Regions from separate parts of the Homo sapiens genome. Here regions 1, 2 and 3 are each linked to region 4. Evidence: fine-mapped expression QTL. A gene starts in region 4. Each other region holds a variant in brackets. All regions are shown on one strand. Distances are between the middles of the regions.

Region 1 (5,260 bases), 30 kb before region 4:
CTCCACAGCAGATACAACATGCTTCCGAGGTCAGGACCAGTTAGTGGAGTAGTCAGGTCAGGAGCAGGAGGAACAGACCCCGAAGTTTGAGTATTTTCATATTTTAGATATAGTTTTACATACAGTAACTCTGGGACACAAATCTTAAGATTAATCTCTATGAGTGTTTATATGTGTACCCACCCATGAAATTGTGATCCAAATCAAAATACAGAATGTTTCCAGTGCCCTAGAAGGTTCCTCATGACCCTGTCCAGTCAGGACCCCTGCTGCAAGTGTAACTACCATCCAGACTTCCATTGCTGTGGGTTAGTGTTGCTTGTTCTTGGACTTCACATAAATGGAATGACACAGCTTGCGCTCTTTTGTGTCTGGCTTCTTTCATTTAACATTGTGGCTCTGAGCTCCACCCTGTTTTGCATGTAGCTATAGTTTGCTTTTTGTTGTTGCTGAGTAATATTCCATCATCCAAACACACCACAGTTTGGGTATCCATTCTCCTGCTGATGGGCACTGGGTTATTTCTAGTTTAGGGCTGTTATAAATAACACTGCTGTGAACATTCTTGTACATGTCATTTGATGGACATAAGTGCTTGTATGTCCCAGGAGTGGAATTGCTAGGTCACGGGGCAGATATATGTTTAGCTTTAGTGGATTCTGCCAGTTTCCCATTTGGTGTTCAATTTATATCCCCTCCTGTATGAGTCTGATCTTGCACAGCTCCCCACCTGTATTAGTCTGATCTCGCACAGCTATAAAGAAATACCTGAGACTTGGTAATTTATAAAGAAAAGAGGTTTAATTGGCTCACGGTTCTGCAGACTGTATAGGAAGCATGGCTGGGGAGGCCTCAGGAAACATAGAATCATGGCGGAAGGGGAAGGCGAAGCAGGCACATCTTACATGGCCAAAGCAGGAGGAAGGGAGCAAAGTGGGAGGTGCTACACACTTTAAAATAACCAGATCTGAGAACTCACTATCGTGAGAACAGTAAGGGGGAAATCTGCCCCCATGATCCAGTCACCTCCCACCCGGCCCCTCCTCTAACACTGGGAATTAAAATTCAATATGAGATTTGGGTGGGGACACATATCCAAGCCGTATCAGAGTATAGTTGCTTCACATCTGTGCCAACACACAGTACTGCTGGTCCATGATGTTTGCTCCAGACCTGCTTGTTGAATGACTTCCATTAAGCTCCACTGTGCAGCCAGGCTTCTGTTATCCTTTACAGCACTTTCTGGCTTTAGAGGGAGAATTATGAACTGCCAAGGTGCTTTTCAACTGGGGAACCCTGATTGAGAGGATGGTGAGGGGGGAGAGCTCCCTGGAGTGGATTTGCTGCTGATCCTGTCCTGGACTCCAGGGCATGTATGCACCTGGCTGTGCAGCCCAGGCCTCTCTTGGCACCCACTTCTGTACTATGGTGCCACCCAGATCCCTGCATGGGCTGTTTGGGAGATAGGGTCACACTGGGCAGTCCTTTTTAGTTCAGAGTAACACTACCTTTCCCACCTCATCCTCCTCATCACTGTCATTGGGCTCTGAGGGACCCACTTTTGCTCGAGGATTGCTTTTTTACTTTCTGTTTTTGTTTTCTTGAGATAGGGTCTCACTCTGTTGCCCAGGCTGGAGTGCAGTGGCTCGATCACAGCTCACTGCAATCTCTGCCTCCTGGGGCTCAAGCGATTCTCCCCCCTCAGCCTCCCAAATAGCTGGGACCATAGGTGTGTGCACCACCATGCCCGACTAGACTAATTTTGGTATTTTTTGTAGAGATGGGGTTTCGCCATGTTGCTCAGGCTGGTCACAAACTCCTGGGCTCAAGGGATCCGCTGGCCTTGGCTTCCCAAAGTGCTGGGATTATAGGCGTGAGCCACTGTGCCCGGTCTGAGGGACCCACTTTTGAATACAGACCCCAGCCTGTGTCCTGAGGTGTTATGGTTACCGGTGGGGCAGAAGGGACCCCTGCATATTGCACCCATTTTGTCCTTGTCCACTGGCTGTTGCCCAAAATTCTACCCTTAGTGCTTTATGCTTTTACCTCTCAAGGGCATGATACTTAGGGACTTGGCAGTGACCCTGGTTAGAGTGGGCCTGTTTTCCTTTAAATGACCGGTATCCCAGTGTGAACAAAGGAT[A/G]TGTGAGCAGGTTTTGATAAGGCAATACAGCAAGGACACTGAGTCCTTGAGGGGAAGGTTTAAAAGGAGATGAAAAGGGCCTACTTGCTGTTGGCTGACCTTGGTGCCACAGACGCACATTTCAGAGTCATCAAGGATGAAGGCTCAGAAGACTCTGAAGCAACTTCAAAGGAATCGCTTGGATCACAGGTGGGGTGAAGGTTGGAGATAAGAAGGCAGGGCCAGGGAAAGAGACCCAAGGGAGCCTCGTTTGGAAGCAAAGCTCTGGAAACAAAAGACTGCAGAGCCAGGGTCAACCTGGGCAACTGTTTGAAGCCAGCCCCGTCCTCAGGTGCAAGAAAGAGCATTCTCTGGGTCTAAGCCTGAGTTGTGCGCGGAGGACACAGGCTTTCCTGGGCAGGACTGCAGGCTTCTGGCTCCACTCGTGCCTGTGGCACACACAGGTTTTGATAGCCAGAGCCTGGCCAGTCCTCCTCTTTCTGCTCCCTGTCCCTCCTGGGACCAGGACTTGGCCTCTCCCCTCCACCCTCCCTTCTCTTCCTCCTTCCCTTCTTTGTCTCCTTCTCCTTAAATTTTGTGATTTTTAATTTCAATTGATTTATTGCCCCTCCTTGTCCCCAGCCTCCCAGTTCTCCTCCCCAGAGGAAACCAGTTTCACCAGTTGCATGTGTAAGTTTCCAGAGACACTTTAATCTATGCACATGAGTGATGTGTGTGTCCACTTTTTCTATACAAATGGTAGCATACTTTTTATAGTGTTCTAGGCCTCATTTAAAATTTTAAAATTAAATATTGAGTAGATACAAAAATAGTAGTTATAGAATATATATACATTTTAAAGACACCCACAATACAATAGACCAGTATGGGTACCCACGCCCTGTTTTAGACAAAGAAGCTGGGCTTTTGAAACCATGTGCCTCTCTCCAGCCCCACCCTCCTCTTCCCCTAAATACTATCATGAATTTTACGCTTATCCTGCCCTTTTTGTCTTTTTATAATCCTACTACTTGTTTATAATAGATTATGATAAATATACTATATTTTTATACTAAGATAAATGTAATAAACATTATATATAACAAGACATAAATATATATAATAATTGAATATGGTATACTACCTTTTTGGGATTATGAATAGAATAGTTTTCTATGGCTGGCTTTTGTCCCACCCATAATTATAGTTCTGAAGTTCAGTGTACTGATACGCATGTCCGGAGTTAGTTCATTTTCACTCTTGTATAGAATTCCATTGCATGGAGATAGTATGATTATTTTCATTGGACTATTTTATTTATTAATAATAATTATTATTGTTTTCTAATTTAATTTTATTTTTTGAGACAGGGTCTCATTCTGTTGCCCAGGCTGGAGTGCAGTGGTGCAATCATGGCTCACTGCAGCCTCAACCTCCAGGGCTCAAGAAACGATCCTCCTACCTCAGCCTCCCAATTAGCTGGGACTACAAGCATGAGCCATCACACCTGGCTAATTTTTAAAACTTCTTTTATAGAGACAAGGTCTCACTATGTTGCCCAGGCTGGTCTTGAACTCTCAACCTCAATAATCCTCCGGCCTCAGGCTCCCAAAGGGTGGCTCATGCCTGCTGGGATTACAGGCATGAGCCACTGTGCTTGGCCTCAGTGCTGGCCTCAGTTTTGGGGTTCTAGGAACAGAGCTGGTGCAAATGTTCTTAATTGTTTCTTTTGGTGTGTGTTGGGGGGAATGGCGGGGGTTGGGTAAGAACTTCTCCAGGGCATTTGCAAGGCCATTGGGAAAGTACATTGTCAACTTCAGTAGATAATGCCAAAATTTTAAAAAGTGGTTATAACCATTCGCACACCCACTAGTAGTTTGAGCATTCCCCTCACTCCACTTCTTCACCAACACCTGCAATTATCAGCTTTTTTTTTTTTGTAGATGGATCTGTGTGAAATTGTAACTCACTGTGGTTTTAGTTTTCATTTCCCTGGTTATGCATGCTGCCTTTTTTTTACTTAAAATATGTCTTGGTGACTGTTCCGTATCAGAGCAGTGAGGACTTCCTCCTCCTTTCTTGGCTGGAAAGTGTTCCATCGTCATATGGAAATCTTGTGGTCGATTTAACCCGTTCCCTATTGATAGACGCTGTGTGGGCTCCAGCCTTTTGCAGTCGACTCTGCGATGCATAACTTCGTGTATAGATAGCAGTCTGCAGCTGCACGTGGGGGTGTGTGCATGTAGGTTTTTCACAGGAACCTCCTGAAATGCTTAGAAGAAAAGGAAAGATAGTGTTTGCTCCCCCGGCCCTGTGCCTCCCTATTTTCAACAAATTCCCTTAATTCCATGAGTGCCCCAGGGTCAGAATGGTATCCACCCTGTCCTGTTTGCACCGTACCATCTCTTCTCTCAGATGATGATGTTCATCTCCCACCCGCTTCCCTTCGAGCCACCCCCACCTCATAGACTCCTCAGGAATTGTCTCTACCCGGCATCTCTCACTTTTTCTTTCTTTTTTCTTCCTTTCTCTCTTTCTCTTTCTTCCTTCCTTCCTTTCCTTCCTTCCTTCATTTCCTTCCCTTCCTTCCTTCCCTTTCTTTCTGTTTCTCTCTCTCTCTCCCCCTCCCTTCCTCCCTTCCTTTTCTTTCCTTCTTTCTTTCTTTCCTTTTTTTTTTTTTTTTTTGATCAGGGTTCTTGCTCTGTCACCCAGGCTGGAGGGCAGTGGTGCGATCATGGCTCACTGTAGCCTCAAACTCCTGGACTCAAGCGATCCTCTTGCCTCAGCCTGCCAAATAGCTAGGACTGCAGCTGCTCGCCGCCATACCCAGCTATATTTTTTGTAGAGACAGGGTCTCGCTATGTTGCCTTGGCTGGTCTCAAACTCCTAGGCTCAAGAAATCCTCCCCCCTCAGCTTCCCAAGTCACTGCCAGACATCTTTCTTATTGACATCCCCATCTCGAGAATCCAAGTTAGTATTAACTGAGGGATTAGACTTTGCCTTGCCCTGAAAGAGAGAAAAACAAACTGACCACCACTCTAGAGACTGTTTAGTCTCAAAAGTCGGCGCAGTAACACACACACACACACACACACACACACACAACCAACCAACCAAAAAAAAAACAGGTAAAGGCA
Region 2 (5,000 bases), 23 kb after region 4:
CTCAGTTTCCTGATCAGTAAAAGGAAGATAGAAATACCTACCTCCCAGTATTGTTGTGGGAATTAAGCAAGTTAGCACTTCTTATTAAGCTTACAACCCAGACTTCCCTGGTGGGGTTCTGGGGACTTGGGGTGGGGAAGATTACACCCTCCTCTGCCACCCCCGAATAGCGCATCTGCCCACTGAGCAAATGGCACAGGCGAGCCTTACATAGTCCATATCTCAGGGTCATCTCCCTCTCAGACCTGGACCAGGGCCATAAAGGAAAGATGATGCAATGGTTTCAAGACAAAGTTCACCTCCTCCTCATGATTCACCGGCCCAAGGCCAGCACCCCTTCCCTGCCCACAGACTCAGTGGGCACCAAGCAAGTATCCCAGGGCGTCACTTAGGAACAACTTCCAACTGCACCAGTGTTTTAATAGGAATCTCATACAGGACCCCAAAAATGTCATCTGGCAGTGGACTTCCAGGCAGAGTGACAAGAAGTTAGGGAAAGCTATTGGGGGTTGGGCTAAAGTGTTCCTTTAGCTGTTGATATGAAGGTGTCTGTCACGTAATGACTCCTGGACAAAGGTCAGGATGCCTGGGTCCAGCTCCATCATTGCCTAGCTCTGGGCTCTCCGGAGCCAGCGACTTCCTTCCTCAATATCTTGCTTCCGTCATGTGCAAGACAGCAGGCCGATTCCTGGGGTTTTCCCAGCTTCCGAATTCTAGGTTTCCCCATTTGTTGGATTCAGAGATGAGTTGGAGAAACCACCCTAGACCTCCCTTGGCCCCTGGCCACTGGGTGGCACCGACCACCCCCTCTTCTCTGCTTCCTTTGCAGATGAGTATCTCAGAGTCCTCAACGTGGGTGTGGCCGAGGTGAAGAAATCCTTCCTGGGGCCCTTGTCCCCGTCCTGTAAGATGGTGCAGATGATGAGGCAGTTTCTGTACCGGGTCCTGCCCGAGGACTCCTACAAGGTCACCACGGGGAAGCTCCATGTGAGCCTCACCCGCTTAACGGACGGGGAGAATGTGGTGGTTTCAGAGTTCACGTCCAAGGAGGAGCTCATTGAGGCAAGGGGGCTGGGCTGGGAGGGAGGGACACGGAGGGGGCGGGGGAGGGCGGCTCCTGCTCTTTCTCCACAGCTCAACCCGATGCCTTATCCACCTGCCTCACTTCCCTAGTCCTTCCCTTCCTTCATGCCCCCAGAGTCTCGCTGTGCAAGGTGCAGTGCTAGATGAGATGGACACAGAAGCCCAGGACGAACCAGGCTTGACCGCCACCCTCAATGCTTCGGCCTTCACATCCATCCTGCCCGGCCCCCTGCGCTAAGCCTGGAGCTTCCCAGAGGCCCAGGTGTGACTTGCAGAGGGCCTGGGTCTCCTTCAGGGCCTTCCAGGCTGGGCTGCCATGCATCCCCCCAGAATTACTCCCACTTTGTGGGAACGGTCAGGGGAGAGGGGCCCCCATGTCCCCTTTCTGCCCCCTCTCTTCCAGTGGCCCTTGATAAGGGATTGAATGGTTACCAAATCAGTTAACACTTAGAAAAGTGCACGCTAATCCTGAGTGCGCTGCCCTAAGCTCATTAATATTAATTTTAGTTATGAATAATGATTGCTGGAAAGGGCCGCAGGTAGGTCCCAGTGTCTTTCGGGACAAAGGGGTTAAGCTGTGTGGCCTCCTTCCCACATCTCCACTCTCCTTCCTTCCCCCACATACAGGGGCTTCGCCACTCCATCCTCATCCCATACTGGCCTGGCAGTAATCCTGGGGATGAGGGATGAATAGGCAGTGGGCACAGACACCACCTCCGTCCCTCAGGCCCCCTGGGTTTATCAGCAGCCAGCTCTTCCAGATCTGCCTCCTCACGCCCACCCCCGTTCTGACTTCACTGCCCACTGCTGCAGTTTTCTCTTCCCGGCCCTCTCCCCCACCTTCCACTCCTACCATGCCAACCCTAGCAAACCACACACAAGCCAGGCCTCTGGGTCTTTGCACCTGCCGCTCCCTCTGCCTGGGATCCCCTCCCTCCTTCCCACACTGCTTTGCCTGCTGCTGAAACCCAGTCCCTCCTGCCAGGGCACTTCCCTTCATCCCCTCCCACCCTGCCTGCACCCCTCTTGTGGAGCCACGGTGCCCATGCTCACCTCCACCATGCCCCTGTCACCCCACTGCACCGTCACCCACTTGCTCACTCCCTCTCATAGGGCACTCCCAAAGGTGGGCCTCTCAGCCTCCTTTGCTTCCAGGGCCTGGCCCAGGGCTGACACACATTAATGGTTGTTGAATCCCACTGGATTCATGAAAGTTCAGCATCAGAAGGAACCCCGAAGCTATGGAGGACCCCCTCCTGCTTTAAAGCTGGGACATCAGGGCCAGATGGACCAAGCAGGTTACCAAGGACCCAATTAGTGAAGGCCAGGCCAGGAACTGAACTCGGAGCTTTGCTTCCCAGTGTGGCACCTTCACCTAGAATTTAAGGAGGTCTGGGCTGGTGGTGGGTGGCCCAGGGGCTGACAGGTGAGCTGTCCCCACCCCACCCCCGGGCCTCCAGCATCTCAGCCCTGTTCTCTCCGCACAGGCCCTATACTGCAGCTGCTTCGTCCCGGTGTACTGTGGCCTCATCCCCCCGACTTACCGCGGTGTGGTGAGTGCTTCGGCATGGTGAGGGGTGAGATGGGATCCAAGGGACCTCGGGTCCCTGTGACTCACACCTGGGGGAGCAGGGGGGTGGTCTCAGAATGCAGCGGG[A/G]GGACCTAGAGTTGGAGAGTTTCTCATGTTGTTACTCAGAATTCCCAATGTAGGTGGCTTTCTGGGCCTTTAAGATGAACTTCTCCAGCTGGGGTGGGTTCCTCTCTGGACCCACCTACCCACTGCCAAGCCGGGCAAATCAAGGCTCCATAGGCTTGGCAGGTTTTCCCAGACTTGACAGAGCAGAGGAGATGAAGCACTGGGACCTGGAAACTCAAATGATGAGGATGTTTTCTGAGGCCTGTAGGCCAGGGCCTTACAGACTTTAATGTGCCCTTGAATCACTCGGGGTCTCGTAAAATTATGCAAGTTCTGATCCAGGCGGTCTGAGGCAGTGCCTGAGGGTCTGCGCCCCTAACCAGCCTCAGGTGCTGCCCGTGCTGCTGGTGGGTGGGCCACACTCTGAGTGGTGATGGTCTAGCTCATGCCCCCTCCTCATTTTATATGCAGAGAAAGTCAGGGCCAGAGACTAGGATTCAGGTAGTAGATGGAGCTTGTATTGCATGTCAGCCAGCCCTGAGAGTTAGAGCCTCAGTATTTGTTGTCCTTCGTTCATAGGTGAGAAAACAGAAGCCCCAGAAAGGAAGGGGCTTGTGGGTGAACAGGTGGTGGGGCTGTAGCAGAGGAGCACGTCTCCTGCTTTACCCAGAGTATGGGTCCCCTGCACACAGAGCCCTGGGAGCCCCAGTCTCAGCGCCACTAAGATAGTGGAGGGAGGATCAGTGCAGGACAGAGCACCGGGCTGGGAGTCCAGAGGCCAATGCAGACTCACTAAGTGACCAGGGGCACACCACGCACCCACCAGGACCTCCGTCTCCAGGCTTATCCTGAGGGGTCTTCTGGATCTTCCTTGATGGGCCCTTGAAGCTGGTGCCATATCCCATGGGCCATTTCGATGTACCCCGAGTGGGGCTGAGAACTCTGGCCCCAAGTGGGCATTTCTCACTCTGCCCCCACAGAGGTACATCGATGGGGGCTTCACGGGCATGCAGCCCTGTGCCTTCTGGACCGACGCCATCACCATCTCCACCTTCAGTGGGCAGCAGGACATCTGTCCCCGGGACTGCCCGGCCATCTTCCACGACTTCCGCATGTTCAACTGCTCCTTCCAGTTCTCCCTGGAGAACATCGCCAGGATGACCCACGCATTGTTCCCCCCGGACCTGGTGGTGAGAGGCAGGAGGGGTCTGGGGAGTAGCAGAAGGTACCAGGGACTAGGGGTGGGGTTAGAGAGCCACTGGGGCCCACTCAAGTTCCATCTGAGTCTCCTCCCCTCAAATGGTCCTTTAAACTTCCTCCTAGACCTGCATCCTGGCCTTGCTGCTAACTAGCTATGTGACCTTGAACAAGCGCCTCAAGCTCTCCCAGCTTCAACATTCTCCCCGGTAAAGCGAGATGATGCCAGAAGTGCTGATAGAAATATTAACTGAACCCATCCATTCAGACAGTTCATGTCCCAAATCAAAGGTCGGCAAGCTGCAGCCCACGGGCCAAATCTAGCCTATGGCTTGTTTTTGTACAGCCTGTGAGCTAAGAAAGGGTTTTCCATTTTTAGAGAGTTATGGGGGAAAGAAAAAAAGAAGAAAAAGAAAAAGAACATTAGGCAGAGACTGCATGTGGCCAGCAAAGCCCAAAATAAGTATTTACTATCTGGCCCTTTACAGAAAAGGCTTTGTGGGCAGTAGCTCATGTAATCCTCTAGCATCCTCTATGATCAATATTATAACTGTCCCCATTTTATAGATGAAGAAATTGAGGCTGTGAGAGGGGACAGCAACACAGCCAATAAGGGGCAGCCCAGAGACCTGAACTCAGGCTCCAAACTTTGCTCTTCATATGGCCCCAGTGCACCTGGTTCTGCCATGAGCACCCCACACTTTCCTCCCAGGGGAGGCCGAGGCTCCACCATGAATGGTGTAACTCATGAACGGAGCATCACTGGGGCGTGTGATCAGGAATTGCTCCTCGGTTCTTCTTAGCAGACAGTGAGGGATGGGACACTGGATGGGTACGTTTTGAAAAGCCCATCAAATAAAATTCAAGAGCAATGGGAGTAGCTGCCCTGGGTCGGGGGAACTGTGGCTCCCTTCCTCCCCGCAGCCTTGGTAATTCTCCTGGTGCCTCCGCCCACAGATCCTGCACGATTACTACTACCGAGGGTACGAGGATGCAGTTTTGTACTTGAGGCGGCTGAGTAAGTACCGGTGGGGCCCCAGGTAAGGGCAGTGTTGGAGGGTAGGGAAAGTTCAAACAGTAGAAG
Region 3 (5,000 bases), 36 kb after region 4:
ACAAAAAAATCAGCCAAACTTGGTGGTGCATGCCTGTAATCCCAGCTACTTGGGAGGCTGAGGCAGGATAATCGCTTGAACCCAGGAGGTGGAGGTTGCAGGGAGCCAAGATTGTGCCATTGCACTCCAGCCTGGGCAACAAGAGTGAAACTCCATTTAAAAAATATATATATATCAGAAGTATTAAGTACTATATAACTAATAAAAACACAGTGTTGGAGGGTATTCGTAGAGAATAAGACCACTTATCTCTGGGGCAGTATGAAAAGCTTCTTGGAGGTGACAGGTGAGCTTAAATGGGCAGGATTTTGAACATCGTGGTTTGTGGGATTGGATGGGTTGGAGTAGAAAGAGCATTTCCGATTTTGTTTATTTAAAATGCTCAGGTGCAGTGCAGGAATGTGCAGGGTACTTTCAAGGTACTTTAGGAAGGAGAGGACTTGTGTGTGGCCACCATGGATGGTCTGGGTGGAGACAGAGGGACAGAGACCCAAATGAAGGACTGAAGCCAGATTGTAGGGTGCTCATGGTCCTCAGCCAAACTTCCAGAGCTATTATGGTAAACGTCACAGATCGGCAATGTCTCCTCATCTGGGAATTAGCCCCAACTTGGTAGAGATGCCCTTTCTTTGGAACAGGTTTACTTTGACTCTTTTAATGAGACAAAAACAAAACACCATTAAGAAAATTAGGCTGTGACTCATGCCTTTGAGAGGCAGAGGCAGGCAAGTCACTTTCAGTCAGGAGTTCGAGACCAGCCTAGCCAACGTGGTGAAACCCCATCTCTACTAAAAATACAAAAAATTAGCCGGGCATGGTGGCAAGTACCTGCAGTCCCAGCTACTCAAGAGGCTGAGGCAGGAGGATCACTTGAACCTGGGAGGCGGAGGTTGCAGTGAGTAGAGATCGTGCCACTGCACTCCAGCCTGGGCGACAGAGTGAGACTCCGTCTCAGGAAAAAAAAAAAAAAAAAAAAAAGTCAGAAAATTGGGCGCAGTGTTTTACCTGCTCTCTTATTTCCTGTTAAATACAAAACACTTGTTTTACATTAACCACACCTGTGCATGAAGGCGGCCATCTTCAGGTACCTGAGCAATCCTGCACCCCAAGTCGGCATTCCTCACTCATATCGGGGGTGGATAGAGGGCATATATAGTCTAGTGATTCTCTACTGGGAGTGATTTTGTCTCCAGGAGACATTTAGCAATGTCTGCAGACATTTTGGTTGTCACCTAGTGGTTACAGGCTGGGGACACTGAAAAATATCCTGTAGTGCACAGAAGTCTCTGCACAAAGTGCTTTCTGACCGTTAGTGTCAATAGCATGTACTGAGATTGAGAAGCCATGTTATAGCTTACAGCTGAGCCTCAATGGTGACATCCTAGGCCATCTATGTGAGTTAGGCAGAGCTGAGACCCCCTAGAGCAAGTTTATCCAACCCGCGGCCCAGATGGTTCTGAATGCACCAGTCTATAAAAAATTCATTAACTTTCTTAAAACATTGTGAGATTTTTTTTGGATTTTTTTTCAGCTCATCAGCTATCATTACTGTTAGTGTATTTTATGTGTGGCCCAAGACAATTCTTCTTCCAGTGTGGCCCAAGGAAGCCAAAAGATTGGACACCCCTGCCCTAGAGTTTAGTGGTATCAGTCATTTAATGATGGCCATTGGTGGCATTGGGGAACAGGAAAATTGTTAAAAGCCCTAGGAATATCCAAAAACAAAAGGACAAGCCTCATTGTGAATAGATTTGGGAGAGTTAGGGACATACAACAAGTCTCTAACAAAATAACTTCAGAAGAACCCACATATACTTTATATTACCTTTATTTATATATAATACATAATTACATATTAACCTTCATGTATTATGTATCCCCATACTCATTAAAAACATGTAAAGAGCTTACTTAAGAGTAATGGCCATGAAACTATTAATACTCTGTTCTAAGAAACAAACAAAAAGCATTACATGAAGCATGTGATGGAAAGTCCAGGCCCCTTCAGGGGATTTTCCTGAAAACCTTCCCTAACATGCTGCTTTCTGCGAGGGAGCTATTTCTTTTCTTTTCCTTATTTTTCTTTACTTTTCTCTTTTTTTTTTTTTTTTTTTTTTGGTGGTGGAGGAGGAGACAGTATCTCACTCCCGGCTCACTGCACTCTCAACTTTTGAGGCTCAGGTGATTCTCTTACCTCAGCCTCCCGAGTAGCTGAGATCACAGGCATGCACTACAACACCCAGCTAAATTTTTGTATTTTTAGTAGAGACAGGGTTTCACCATGTTGGCCAGACTGGTCTCAAATTCCTGGCCTCAAGTGATCTGCCCGCCTTGGCCTCCCAAAGCGCCGGGATTACAGGCATGAGCCACCGGGCCTGCCCCTGGGAGTTGTTTCTAATGTTCCACCAAGGGTCCGAGTCAGCCGCTCCACAGATGCCGCGGGCCTGCGTCTCAGTCAAGTCCCACGACATGACTCTGGTTGTAAAGATGAGAATTTGAGGACAAGAGAGTTCTTTGCTGTTTTTAAACATTCTCATTTACTGACTATTGCTATTTCAAAAATGACTCCATATCCCCCCTCCCCATCTCACTCCCGTTTCCTATATCTTTACTTTTAGCTGTAGCTCTTCTTGTCTCTTCAAAACCAAAAAGCGCCGTGCCTCTGGTTCATGTGAAGGAAACCGTCAGCAAGCCTTA[T/A]GTAACGTAAGTTTCCCCTTCGTGGAGCACGCTCTTTCCTTTGGACGGAAGAAGCAAGCCCGGCTAAGCGATATCTTCCACCACCTTAGCTGCCCCAGGAACTCTGGGATCCTTTTCTGGTGTGTGTGATTGTGTGATTCCAGGTCCACCCCTTTACATCTCACAAAGCTGCCTTCTCTTGTTCAGTTAGGGCAGTGTGTGGGGAAGGAGCCTGTCCGTGGTGATGATGTCATTCTCTTCTCCTGCACACTGGGGATGCTCCTTCTCTGAGTGCAGTGCAAGAATGTGCATCCCCTGCCCTCATATTTTACTCTCTGGTGATGCCACAGTTCCAAGAGGGCCTGCAGGCATCCTACCTCCCAGCCTTAGGTAGCTCCTGCATGAAATGAATTAAGGGTCTCTATCAAAGGCCTTCCTTACTCCGAACTATTTTCTATTAGCATGATAATGACCTGATAGTACTAGACTGTAGACTGTCCCCAGAAAATCTTTTTTATTATGCACATCAAGTGTCTGGGTTGCATAACATACACTCCATTATATCTTTGCAATAACTATGAGAGGACCTGGGGATCTGCTTTTTTAAAAACTTCCCTGAGGACCACATTACCCAGGCTCCCTTGCTGGCTGAATGCCGTTTGTACTGGTGGTGGGGGAGGCACAGCAGGAGATCAGAAGTTGGGTCAAGGGTATTTCTCCCCACAACCCCAGCCCCCCTCTCATCCCTCCCTGCCTTGGGACCACTCTGGCAGTAGCTGGGTTTCTCCATGACCACAGCTGCAGGTATTGAGAGAGCAGGGCCTGAGGCATTCCTGCTTTTAATGTTTGCACTCTCTCTCACATCAAGCATATTAAAATTTACCTGCTTCCCACATTAAGTATAATTTTAACCATAAAACTTTTTGAAAGAGTTTGTATAAATTTAACAATTTTGAGCTTAGGCATAAGTTATGCATTTTGTTCACATAATTTAAACTTTTTTGCATTTACATATAACTCTATAAAAGTCGGAGTTTCATTTGACTCATGGGCATGATGTTACTTAGATAAATATTCATTGATTATATTTTAAAAAAAGTTTGCTGGGAAATCCAATCCTCAGCCAGGGTTGAGAACCACAGCGCGGGTGTGTCCACCTGCGGAGCTGAGCAGGCCACCATGTTGGAGGACCGAGGTCAGGCCCATAATGAACCATCTACTTAATCTCTTTGCCTAGGGAGAGCCCTGCTGAAGACTCAAACTGGGTGAATAAGGTCTTCAAGAAGAACAAGCAAAAGACAAGTGGCACCAGAAAAGGCTTCCCAAGACATTCGGGATCCAAAAAACCAAGCAGCAAAGTGCAGTGAGCATGTCTAATGTTCCTTAAATCCCACGGAGAGGAGCAGCTTTGGGAACTGTGTTCAGAGAGATTCCGAGGAATAGAGGAGAGTGTAAGGGAGTAGGGGGTGCAGTGGGAGATTGGGCTTTGGAACAGACACATCCGACATAAAATTCCTGCTCTGCCACAGCTCCACTCAGGGATCATGGTTGGGACACTTGCTCTCCCTGAGCCTCCATTTCCTGTAAAATGGGGATGATACCACTTCATAAAGTTGTGAGAGTTAAATGTGATCGATGATGTAAATTGCTTCATAGAATGCAGAATGTGTAATAGCTCACAATAAGTAGGTATTATGTTTACATATTATGTTTGTATTTATGCTACTTAAATACAAAACTGGACAGGCCAGGCATGGTGGCTCATGCCTGTAATCCCAGCACTTTGGGAGGCTGAGGTAGGTGGAAAACCTGAGGTCAGGAGTTCAAGAACAGCCTGACCAACATGGTGAAACTCCATCTCTACTAAAAATACAAAAATTAACCAGGCTTGATGGTGTGCACCTGTAATCTCAGCTACTCGGGAGGCTGAGGCAAGAGAATCGCTTGAACCCAGGAGGCAGAGGTTGCAGTGCACCAAGACTGCGCCATTGCACTCCAGCCCGGGCAACAAGAGCGAAACCCCATCTCGAAAAAAAACAAAACAAAACTAGACAAGTGAGTGCCTACGTGACACTCAAATGTTGCCAGCATACAGTTAAGGGCCCTAGTCAATGTAGGCCTGCTTCTTATAGCTTTTTGACTATATTATGCTGTCTTTGACTTAGTCAGTCAACACTTATTGAGCACCTACTAAGTGCCAAACACTCTCCTGGACTCTGGCAAAATAAAAAATGAATTAAAACTCTATCCCCAAGTTTCAACAGTTTACTCCTAGTCTAACTTTAGATCAAAGATAAGACTAAAACCTAAGAATCTGATGAACT
Region 4 (5,209 bases):
GGAACCAGGGCGAATGAAAGGAACCTTCTCAAGAGTTTAGCACCCAGCAGAGGACAGGCTGAGGCCTGCTGCTCACCAGCCCTTGTCAGCTGTGGAGACCAGTCTGCCAGGCTCAGCCTTTGGGGTCCAGGTTAGCAGCTCCTCCACGGCCTTGCTGGGTATAGTCACGGATTTCTGGCTGGCGTGTTTGCATGGAGGAGGCTGTGCGTCATTGCTGTCTCCACGTCCACAGGGAACAGAAACATATGTGCATTCGTGGAAGTCAGCCGGGTCCAAGCAGGTGGGGACAACGGGGGCCATGTCAGGATGCACTGTCTCTGAAGGGGTGGTGGGTCCCCAGCCCCCCAGGTGCCTGAAGCCCATGTACAGCAGGTGGCCTTGCTTTCTATTTCACTGGGATGACCCGGAAAAAGAAACTTATCCATAGCTGTCCTCCCCTCAACATGACCCCACACCCTCCTCCGCCTGCTTACCCTTCTCTGCTGCCTCAGTGGCAGGGATCTCTGTCCTTGGTTCTGGTGCCATCCCTGCCCCCCCCATGGATAGTGCCCATGTCTTGCTGTCATCTCAGATGCATCTTAAAGTAAAATCATCCTCCACCCAGCTTCCCCAGGTCTGTTCCAGTTTCCCCAACTCTGCAGGAGGCAGCCCCACTCCTCCCTACCCCCAGGCTAAAAGTGAGGCCTCAGCCTTGACTCACCCTGCCCATCCAACCAGTCCCTGGCCCTGAGAGTCTTCTGCAGCAATAACTTCATTAACTTGTCTTCCTGCAGCTGCCACCCTGGCCTGGCCACCATCATCCTAGGAGAATGGGCCACCATCCTCCTTCCTCATTCTCCAGCCCCAGTCTCATCTTCCTTCCAAGGCTCTGCATCTTGAGACCTCTCCAAGCTCCTCCTCATGTCGCATGTGGATCAAGCCTTCCCCTTTGGACCCTGCCTTTCTATTCCACCTTATCTCTGGGGTCTATCTGTTCCAGAAGCCTTGACTCTTACTACCCTCTGATAACCACAGACGTGCCGTGTGCCAGGCGTCCTACAGCCATTACCTTTAGCCTTTACAGCTACTGTGCAGCATAGGAATGACAGTATTGTCCCTTTCACAGATGAGGAAAACTGAGGCCCAGAGAGATCATGCACAGGTCACACTGCCTGTAAATAGCAGAGTTGGGATCCAATGTCATGACTCAGAAGGGTTCTCATCCAAAGCCCTTCATCCTGTGAAACAGGTCCCATTACACCCCTTCCCTTCTCTGCAAGGGGCTCTTGCTGCTCCTCGACCAGTGCCTGCCTGCTCCTCCCAGCTGCCTCCAGTCCCGCAGCCCACACCTCCGCCGCACAGCTCCTCAGATGTTCCAGCCCACACTGCTCAGCCCCGCCTCCTAACTTTTCTGGCAGGAATCTCAGCCCTGCACAGTTTAGTACTTAATTATAGATTGCCTTGTACAGTTTTCTGCTTATTTCACATTTGCCTGTCTTGTTCCCAAGAAGCCTGCAAATATCTGATTTGGGGATGGAGCTTCTGTGTGCTCCTGTCCCCCAGGGCCCCGACACAGCACAGGGCTTGGCACACAAGCCCTCAGTGGAGCTGACCTCACCTCCCAGGAAGGGGGCAGGGTCTCTGCTGTCCAAAAGCTGACTGGACTCCACCCTGACACACCCGCCCCCACCCCAGCAGTATGCCTCAGATATCTGCACACACATGCACACATGCATACACACGCATGTACGCACACACACTTTATCTAATCTAAAGCTCTCTTTTCAACCTGAGGCAATGATATGCCTGGAATTACCTACCCAAGACAGAAAACTCCCTCCTAACTGAAGCCTGGCCTTGCCCTCACTGTGGAATTCCCATGCAGATAAGTGAGTCCACCAGAATGGTGCAAGCTCCCCAGAAGCGGGGAAGCCACTGATGTCACATCCTGGATTGGCACTTGGTGGAGGCCTTGGTGTCTTGATTCTGATTCTGGTCCTGTTGCTGTGTGGTCTTTGAGGGGAGCGGGAGACGCCATCTTGCCTTCTTTGTTATATCTCCATGAGGGGACATTTTGTGGGTGTGAGAACCACTCCTCCCCATCAGGACCACATGATACAGCCCCTCAGGGGGCAGAACCGCAGCCCCTGGAGCTAACCCTGGTCCTCTCACACCACCTCCCTTACCAAAACGTCTCTCTGCCCTGACCCCGACGTCCCCACAGGTGACCTCCCCAGCTGCTCCTCCTTGGGGTTAAACATTGCTATCTCAAACTTCTCATTTCTGAGCGGGAAGAAGAACACGCAACACGAAGCCTCACACACTTAGAATGATCTAGATTTCAGGTTGATTTCTTCCTGCACACTTAGAAGATAGCATGAGGGCTTGGGGCTTGTCGAGAGGGCACTGACCAAGGTCACAGGGTCAGTGAAGGGCCCAGGAGAAGAAACAGAGAGAGGTGCAGAGGCGGTGGTGGGTGGGGCCGCCAAAGTCACACTTCTCTTAAAATTTTACCCAGGGCCAATGCTAACATGTAAATAAACAAGTGAATAAACAAAGGGGTGTTTATGTAAGAAAAACAAATAAAAATGCTTGTGTAACACATCACACATACCACATAGCCTGAAGGAGCCCAGGAGGGGCATCTCTTTTGGGGGACCCGTCCAAAAGAGATGGGGTAGGCACCGTCCTCCTGGAGGGAGGCGGGCTTGGAAGCCCTTCACGGCCGCAGCAGCATGTTGGGGAGGGAGGTGTACACCGATAACCATCACGGAGGTTTTGCAACTGAATGTTGCAGCTGAGGGCTGGGCAGAGCCCGCCTCCTTGGGCATGGCCCTGTGCTGGGGAGCAGTGAATGCGCCCTGGTATACCATGGATGGGCAGAGGGCTGAGGATCCCGTGCCCGAGATGAATCTAGCCAAGAAATGAAGCCAGTGGGGGGCTCACAGGACCAAGACCCTGCTCACACACCGGGGGAGCCTTCTGCATCTCATTCTGGGGCCCCTTTCCAACCTTTGGAGTTGCCTCCTGGCGGAGCTTAACAGGCTGAGGCAGCTTCCTGAGCAGCCTGTGGTTGCTCCAGCCGGGTAGAGACAGCCACATTCCAAGCTCCGGGGTGGCAGGGAAGCTGGGTAGGGAGTTCCTACAGGGAGCGGCAGCCCAGGCTCGGGCAGGCAAGTGCTGAAGGGTGGCTCCGCCTTCCGCAGAAAGTCAGAGGCCGAGGAGATGGAAGAACAGGTGTTCAAGGGGGACCCGGACACCCCTCACTCCATCTCCTTCTCGGGCAGTGGATTCCTCTCCTTCTACCAGGCGGGGGCTGTGGACGCCCTGCGGGACCTGGCCCCCCGGATGCTGGAAACAGCCCACCGCTTTGCGGGGACATCGGCAGGTGCTGTGATCGCCGCCCTGGCCATCTGCGGGATTGAAATGGGTGAGGCCTGTGTTCTGGGTCCCCTGGGAAGTCTCTTGGGGGATTCCACAGAGACAGAAGGAGCGTGAGGGAGGCTGGGGATGCTTTGGGGGACAAAGCCAGGCCTGGGTGGCAGGAAGGGAAGGGAAGAGCTGGTTGGAGTAGGATAGCGGCAGCTGTGACGTTTGAAGGTTGGGGTCTGCCAGGCCCCAGACTCTAACATGCAGGGTGAGCCTGGACCCCTGTCCCTCTCCCTCAGTGCCCTTACCTGTGAGATGCTCTGTCTCCCAGTGCCTGGGAGAGTAAAGGACAGTATCTCCCTCGAACATCGAACATGGTGCTGTCAGAAGCTACACCACGGCACAGTCATACATTGGGGTTCAGTGTTGCTCCTGCCTGGCCTCTTTCAAAATGCAAATACCCTTGGGAGAGGCAACTCTTCAAATCTCTATCACCCTGATGGGGACGTATTGTCCACCATTTCCAGGTGGCTGGAAAGATGAACGCCCTGAGGCTGGAGGGGTAGACAGGAGGGAGCCCAGAGTGGGAGAAGAATAGGAAGGGGTGGGGAGAGAATACAGAAGCTCTCACTTCACCTTCTGTCCTGCTGGTCCAGGAGCCTCAGCGAGAAGAACTGCTACACTGCTAACCCAGAGAGAGAAACACTGTCCCGGACAGCAGATGCATCTAGCAGCCCCAAGGAACAAGCCCAACAGCCTAGTGAGCTACCTTGGAGGGGCATTTATTCATTTACAGAGCTCCTATTCTAGACAGAGCTCTGTTCCAGGCACTGAGGACAAGGTCCCCGCCCTTGTGGAGCAGAAATTCTAGAGAAAAGAAACAGATAATAAACATTCAAACAAGGCACCTTCTAGTGTGAGGTCGGGAAGTGATATGATCTATGAATAAAATTAAAGCAGGAAAGGGACTGAGAATGAAATGGAGACTATTTCAGGAAGGTGGTCAGGGAAGCCTTTCTGAGGAGGTGACATTCAAGCCTAGAGCTGGGTATAGTGATAGAACAAGCTACTGGGAGCTCCTGAAAAGGAGAATTCCTGGTGGAGGAGCAGCCACGAAGCCTGCGGTGTGGAAAAGGTGGTGGGAGGTCAACAGGGGCCAGGTCATGTGGCCTTAGCCACAAGCTCTCATCTCACCTAAGGGAGGGGGAGCACAGACGGCTGTGACAGCAAGTGGGGAGGGGGCAGAGGGCGTGAGCTCCTCAGGTGGGATCCCAGCTCTGCCATTTCATGATGCATGCCTGAAGTAAGTTATTGAACGTTCTGCGCCTCTGTTTCTCCGTCCACAAATGGGAGCTCCTAATAGCGCCTAGTTCCCGGCATTGTTACAGCAGCGGTCTCCAGTTGACACCAGCGACTGGTTTTGTGGAAGACAATTTTTCCACACACCAGGGTTGGTGGGGGATGGTTTCAGAATGATTCAAGCGCATTACATTTGTTGTGCACTTTACTTCTATTATCATTATGTTTTAATATATAATGAAATAATTATACAACTCACCATAAGGTAGAATCAGAGCCCTGAGCTTGTTTTCCTGCAAGTAGGCAGTCCCATCTGAGGGTGATGGGAGACAGTGACAGATCATTAGGCATTAGATTCTCATAAGGAGTGCACAACCTAGATCCCTCCCATGCACAGTTCACAATAAGGTTCACGCTCCTATAAGAATCTAGTGCTGCCACTGATCTGACAGGACGCGGAGCTCAGGCGGTAATGTGAGTGATGGGGAGCCGCTGTAAATACAGAAGAAGCTTCACCTGCTGCTTACCTCCTGCTGTGCGGCCTGGTTCCTAACAGGCCACA

The links.
Region 1: its variant is fine-mapped to the expression of PNPLA1 in stomach (GTEx, PIP 0.99).
Region 2: its variant is fine-mapped to the expression of PNPLA1 in whole blood (TOPMed, PIP above 0.99).
Region 3: its variant is fine-mapped to the expression of PNPLA1 in whole blood (INTERVAL, PIP above 0.99). The same link has a PIP of 0.9 or more in sun-exposed skin and unexposed skin.

Annotation. Positions count from the first base shown.
Region 1 is chr6:36,237,678-36,242,937 of GRCh38, forward strand. LOC105375036 (a long non-coding RNA gene) reads right to left here. Exons shown (of 5, transcript XR_007059564.1): 5 at 4,275-4,394. Among named protein-coding and RNA genes, the nearest start is that of PNPLA1, 30 kb to the right of the region's middle. RefSeq lists a silencer at 2,155-2,449. The variant A/G (reference allele first, on the strand shown) is at 2,144.
Region 2 is chr6:36,290,491-36,295,490 of GRCh38, forward strand. It overlaps PNPLA1 (patatin like domain 1, omega-hydroxyceramide transacylase), which reads left to right. Exons shown (of 9, transcript NM_001374623.1): 2 at 830-1,062; 3 at 2,571-2,636; 4 at 3,700-3,909; 5 at 4,874-4,934. Among named protein-coding and RNA genes, the nearest start is that of PNPLA1, 23 kb to the left of the region's middle. The variant A/G (reference allele first, on the strand shown) is at 2,741.
Region 3 is chr6:36,303,674-36,308,673 of GRCh38, forward strand. PNPLA1 (patatin like domain 1, omega-hydroxyceramide transacylase) reads left to right here. Exons shown (of 9, transcript NM_001374623.1): 7 at 2,619-2,703; 8 at 3,914-4,039. Among named protein-coding and RNA genes, the nearest start is that of BNIP5, 31 kb to the right of the region's middle. The variant T/A (reference allele first, on the strand shown) is at 2,698.
Region 4 is chr6:36,267,256-36,272,464 of GRCh38, forward strand. PNPLA1 (patatin like domain 1, omega-hydroxyceramide transacylase) reads left to right here and starts at 2,805. Exons shown (of 9, transcript NM_001374623.1): 1 at 2,805-3,409. The coding sequence starts at 3,205. RefSeq lists an enhancer at 913-1,499.